Regions from separate parts of the Homo sapiens genome. Here region 1 is linked to region 2. Evidence: fine-mapped expression QTL. A gene starts in region 2. The other region holds a variant in brackets. All regions are shown on one strand. Distances are from middle to middle.

The links.
Region 1: its variant is fine-mapped to the expression of RNF32-AS1 in lymphoblastoid cells (TwinsUK, PIP 0.95).

What each region holds. Positions count from the first base shown.
Region 1 is chr7:156,801,126-156,804,044 of GRCh38, forward strand. The region is part of intron 4 of LMBR1 (limb development membrane protein 1); the gene reads right to left. Among named protein-coding and RNA genes, the nearest start is that of LMBR1, 91 kb to the right of the region's middle. The variant CCT/C (reference allele first, on the strand shown) is at 1,663.
Region 2 is chr7:156,658,498-156,661,416 of GRCh38, forward strand. It overlaps RNF32-AS1 (RNF32 antisense RNA 1), which reads right to left and starts at 1,462. Exons shown (of 3, transcript NR_189275.1): 1 at 1-1,462. It overlaps RNF32 (ring finger protein 32), which reads left to right. Exons shown (of 9, transcript NM_030936.4): 7 at 1-73.

The sequences.
Region 1 (2,919 bases), 140 kb after region 2:
ACTTCTACTGTGAGTAAAATGCTGTCAAACAGCATCACATGCTACACAGAAATCTTTTGTGAAAGGAAGAGTCAATCAATATGGCAAACTACACTGTTGTCTTATTTTAAGAAATTGCCACGGTCACGCAACCTTTAGCAAAATCAAGGCAAGACCTCCACCAGCAAAAAGATTACAGCTCACTAAAGGCTCAGATAATTGTTACCATTTTTTAGCAATAAAGGCATGTACACACATTGCTATTGCACACTTAATAAATGGCATTATAGTGTTAAGTATAATTTTTATATGCTCTGAGAAATCAAAAAATTTGTGTGATTCACTTTATTGCCACATTCGCTTCATCACAGTACACTGGAACCAACCCTGCAGTATCTCCAAGGTATGCCTGTCACTGTTAGGTATGTAACATAGTAGGCATTGTTCTGGATACGTTAAGATGCTATCTTTTTTTCTGAGACAGTGGTGTGATCATGGCTCACTGCAGCCTTGACTTCCCAGACTCAGGTGATCCTCCCGCCTCAGCCTACCAAGTAGCTGAGACTATAGGCACATGCCACCGTGCCAGGCTGATTTTTGTATTTTTTGTAGAGATGAGGTTTCACCATGTTGTCCAGTCTGGTCTCAAACTCCTGGGCTCAAGCGATCCACTCACCTCAGCCTCCCAAAGTGCTGGGATTACAGATGTGAGCCACTGCACTCAGCCAGCTACCACCTTAATATTTTATGAGGGAAGGTCCCCCGTTTTACAGACGGACTTCAGGTTCAGAAACGTGCCCTTGTCCCAGAGCAAGAAAAACTTAAGCTATTCCTTCTAATATGCTGTAATGTTTTTAGGCAACATAAATTCCACCATTTCCTAACCTTTTTTTTTTCAGATGGAGTCTCACTCTGTTGCCCAGGCTGGAGTGCAATGGCGCAATCTCGGCTCACCGCAATCTCCGCCTCCCGGGTTCAAGCGATTCTCCTGCCTCAGCCTCCTGAGTAGCTGGGATAACAGGCACGCGCCACTGCGCCAGGCTAATTTTTGTATTTTCAGTGGAGACGGAGTTTCACCATGTTGGCTGGGCTGCTCTTGAACCCCTGACCTCAGGTGATCCACTCGCTTCGGCCTTCCAAAGTGCTGGGATTACAGGCATGGGCCACCACGCCTGGCCCCTAAACTTCTTATATTCTTTAGAGATGCTTGCAAATGTATGATTACAAATCTCTAGATCAAAGGTCCATGAGGCATGAATATATTTCTACACCTCATTTTTTATTTCCCAATGCCTGCTACAGTGCTGAGTAATCAATAAAAATGAGTTCCATAAACAAACAATATTACAATCCATATAGCTAAATGTTAACAGGAAAAGACTCTCTCAGGAAAAAGGTCACAGGCTGAACTAAAGAAGTAGTCTCAGAATTAATTCTCAATTGTCAGTACAAAATGAACAAAATTATAACATATACAAATATAAGAAATATTAATTTTTAACAGCTTTATTGAACTACATAAAATAAGCTACACATGGAGTATATAATTTGATAAGTTTTGTCATGAGAATGCACCAATGACACCATCACCACAATTAAGCTAATGAACATAAACACATCCATCACCCCCAAATTTTCTCATATCCTTTTATAATCCCTGCCCCCTGCCACTCCCCACCTCCC[CCT/C]GATTCCCAGTCAGCCACTGACTCTGCACTTTAGAAAAGAACTCAGAAATAATGCCGCATGTCTACAACTATCTGATCTTTGACAAACCTGACAAAAACAAGAAATGGGGAAAGGATTCCCTATTTAATAAATGGTGCTGGGAGAACTGGCTAGTCATATGTAGAAAGCTGAAACTGGATCCCTTCCTTACACTTTATACAAAAATTAATTCAAGATGGATTAAAGACTTACATGTTAGACCTAAAACCATAAAAACCCTAGAAGAAACCCTAGGCATTACCATTCAGGACATAGGCATGGGCAAGGACTTCATGTCTAAAACACCAAAAGCAATGGCAACAAAAGCCAAAATTGACAAATGGGATCTAATTAAACTCAAGAGCTTCTGCACAGCAAAAGAAACCACCATCAGAGTGAACAGGCAACTTACAAAATGGGAGAAAATTTTTGCAACTTACTCATCTGACAAAGGGCTAATATCCAGAATCTACAATGAACTCAAACAAATTTACAGGAAAAAAACAAACAACCCCATCAAAAAGTGGGCGAAGGATATGAACAGACACTTCTCAAAAGAAGACATTTATGCAGCCAAAAAACACATGAAAAAATGCTCATCATCACTGGCCATCAGAGAAATGCAAATCAAAACCACAATGAGACACCATCTCACACCAGTTAGAATGGCGATCATTAAAAAGTCAGGAAACAACAGGTGCTGGAGAGGATGTGGAGAAATAGGAACACTTTTGCACTGTTGGTGGGACTGTCAACCCTTGTGGAAGTCAGTGTGGCGATTCCTCAAGGATCTAGAACTAGAAATGCCATTTGACCCAGCCATCCCATTACTAGGTATATACCCAAAGGATTATAAATCATGCTGCTATAAAGACACATGCACACGTATGTTTATTGTGGCACTATTCACAATAGAAAAGACTTGGAACCAACCCAAATATCCAACAATGATAGACTGGATTAAGAAAATGTGGCACATATACACCATGGAATACTATGCAGCCATAAAAAAGGATGAGTTCATGTCCTTTGTAGGGACATGGATGAAACTGGAACCCATCATTCTCAGCAAACTATCGCAAGGACAAAAAACCAAACACCGCATGTTCTCACTCATAGGTGGGAATTGAACAATGAGAACACATGGACACAGGAAGGGGAATATCACACACCGGGGACTGTTGTGGGGTGGGGGGAGGGGGGAGGGATAGCATTAGGAGATATACCTAATGCTAA
Region 2 (2,919 bases):
GTGGTACAGAAACCTGAGGAAAACAGTACCTCCCACAGATGCCAAGTTAAGAAAAAAATTCTTTGAAAAAAAGGTAGGTAAAGATCATTATGTTCTCCAGATATGGTCTCCGTGCGGGTGGTTCACTTGGGGTCAGGAAGGCTAACAGAGGTGGTAAAACTTTGAGACTTACTTCACTTTGAGGGCTTTTTAAAAATGGGTGAGATGCTGCTAAAAATCCTGTTTAACTTTAGTTGGCTTTCCAACCTAGATGTTCAAATACTTCTAGACTTTCTTTTCTAGTTAAATCATAAAATTAGGTTAAATCAAAGCAACTTCTGTTTGGCCATTTTGTGCTAATTGTTTAAATAAACTTATCTCTTCAGACACAAGACTGGAAACCAGCTTAATTTTTCCCATCTCCTGGGCTATATGTAAATGAAGACATCTGCTGCACATCTCATAGTAATGAAAATAGAAGCTGCCTATAAAAATAAAGCCCCCACATGCTACCATTGTATTGAGTACCTCGTGGGGTCATCACAATGAGCTTTAGAGCTAACTTCCATGTCTACCCTTCCTCTTAACCACTATTTATGCTTTAGTTTTACTTTTGGGGGACTTATTTAACAATTTCCCATTCCTTGTCCCCATATGAAAAGGACAGTCCTACCCCATCAGCCTGTGGCTTCAGGCAAACAGCAGCAGCTCCGAGGCTGTCATATGAAAGCCATCACTTCTTCCTGGCAGTGTTGGCCTGAGAAGAGCTGTAGCATTTATAATGGCCCAGCACACAGTAGGTGCTGGAAATTCTGTATTTATTATCACTATTAACTCCTTTCCTAGAATATGGAGATGAGTTACTGTGTGTTCTGTTCCTGAGAGCAGTGTCTCTGATCTTCAGAGATCATTCGTCTCGGGTGTTCATTCTCAATTTGGTAAAGGACCGCCATGCACGATTGCGTCATCCTTCCTTTACATTCTTTCCAGTTTTTTATCTTCAGTCGTTGACAGTCAGTTGTGTTCTCTGGGCTACTCTTAGTAATTTCTAATATGTCATAGTAGGTTGTCTCTTAAATCAGAAGTGATTTTTTGTCACCTCTTATACAATTTTAATTACAGATTTGATAGTCATTTTACCTTATATATATAAATATTTTTCATGTGCACACATCATTTTATAAGAACTCTTGAAGATAAAGGCCCACTGAAAGTGTTGGTGGTCTCAGCCCATTGAACTGGACGAGAACTGGCCCAGGTTGCTGGAAACAAGTGAAGCAACCATTACAATGTGCCTTGTGTTATCTTGTAAAGTAGCCAGTGAAGGTTAAGTTTCAGCGTTCAGTGCTCAGGTGTTCAAATGCTGCAGCCTTCAGCTTCATGGAAAAAGGAAACGAAAAATAACAAAAAGCAAGTGACCAAGAGCAGTCGGGGCAGGGAGACCTGATCAAACAAGTTCCTCAGTTTCTAATTCAGTGTCTCCCACAGAGAGATGGAACTTTACAAGGCAGATTCATAGCTCTGTCCCACTGGACGTTGGGTCCGCTGCCCTGTGGCCATCCCACCTCCCCACAAATACTGTTTTTTGTTTTATCCTTGGTTCATCCCAACTGCTGCCTCCTCGTCCTGAGCCCTCATCGCTCGGAACGCCCCGCTCTGATCCCCGTGTCTGCTTTTCTGAGCACACTCTTGCCCGCCCCCGCATGTCCTGCCCGTTCCTACTGGTTCCCTCTGCCTTGCTTAAAATGTGCCAGTTTTTCAAAGCCTAGCTGAAGCTTTCTTCCAATTTCTTTGGTCTTCTCTAAACCTCTATTGTATGTTTAAACAACACCATCTAAGAGATCAAGAAGAACAGAAGTATGAATGCTATTCTAGCTTGTATATTACAAATGTGGTTTTTCCTTTGGGGCTTTTAAGATGATCTCAGATGATTTCAATAGCAAATTCACTTAAGCTGAATATCTGTGAAGAAACTGATAAGTAAAACTGATTTTTTATTTTTTGCAGGGGTGGTAGTTGAGAACAAACTGTATAAGTTGTTTTTTATTTTTATTTAGAGACAGGGTTTCGTTATATTGCCCAGGCTGGCCTCAAATTCCTGGGCTGAAGCGAACCTCCCACCTCAGCCTCCCAGTTAGCTGGGATTATAGGCAAGAGCCATAGGCTAGGGCAGTGGCTTTCAGACTTTTCCTCAACCACAATAAGAAATATCTTCTAAGCAATGTTGACAGAAAAACCAAACTCTGTAAAGTATTTTAAAGAAGTTGACTCTGACTGATACGAGTGACTGCAGGCCAGGAAACCCACTCTCAAGGAGTCCTGAGAAAGTGCACCCCGGGCGGTTGGATTACGGTTTGGTTTCATACATTTTAGGGAGGCAGGAGTTACAGGCAAAGACATCAGTCAGTACATGGAAGTTATACATTGGTTTGGCCAGAAAGGCGTGATATCTTGAAGTGGGGGTTTACAGATTGTAGGTGGATTCAGAGATTCTTTATTTGCAGTTGGTTAAAGGAGTAGGGCTCTATCTAAATACTGGAGTCAGCAGAAGGGAATCTCTAAGTTGAGGATGCTGCGCAGCAAGACTGATGGCCTGCGGCATGACTGTCCCTTGCCGGGCATGGCCTTAGGTCTTGTTTGTACTTTGGTTTCTTACTGCCTCAGACTGCCGTCAGCCTTATCACTTTTAAAGGAATACTGGTCACTTCAGCTTAAACTCCAGCAAGGAGTGGGCATAAGGGGCATCTCACCTTTCTTCCCATCGTGGCCAGAAATTCCATTGTTAAGGTTTTCCTAGGGCCCCCTTGGCCAAGAGGGGGTTCGTTCTGTTGCTGGGGGCCTTAGGATTTTTTTTTTTTTTTGAGACGGAGTCTCGCTCAGCTGCCCAGGCTGGAGTGCAGTGGCACGATCTTGGCTCACTGCAACCATCGTTTCCCGAGT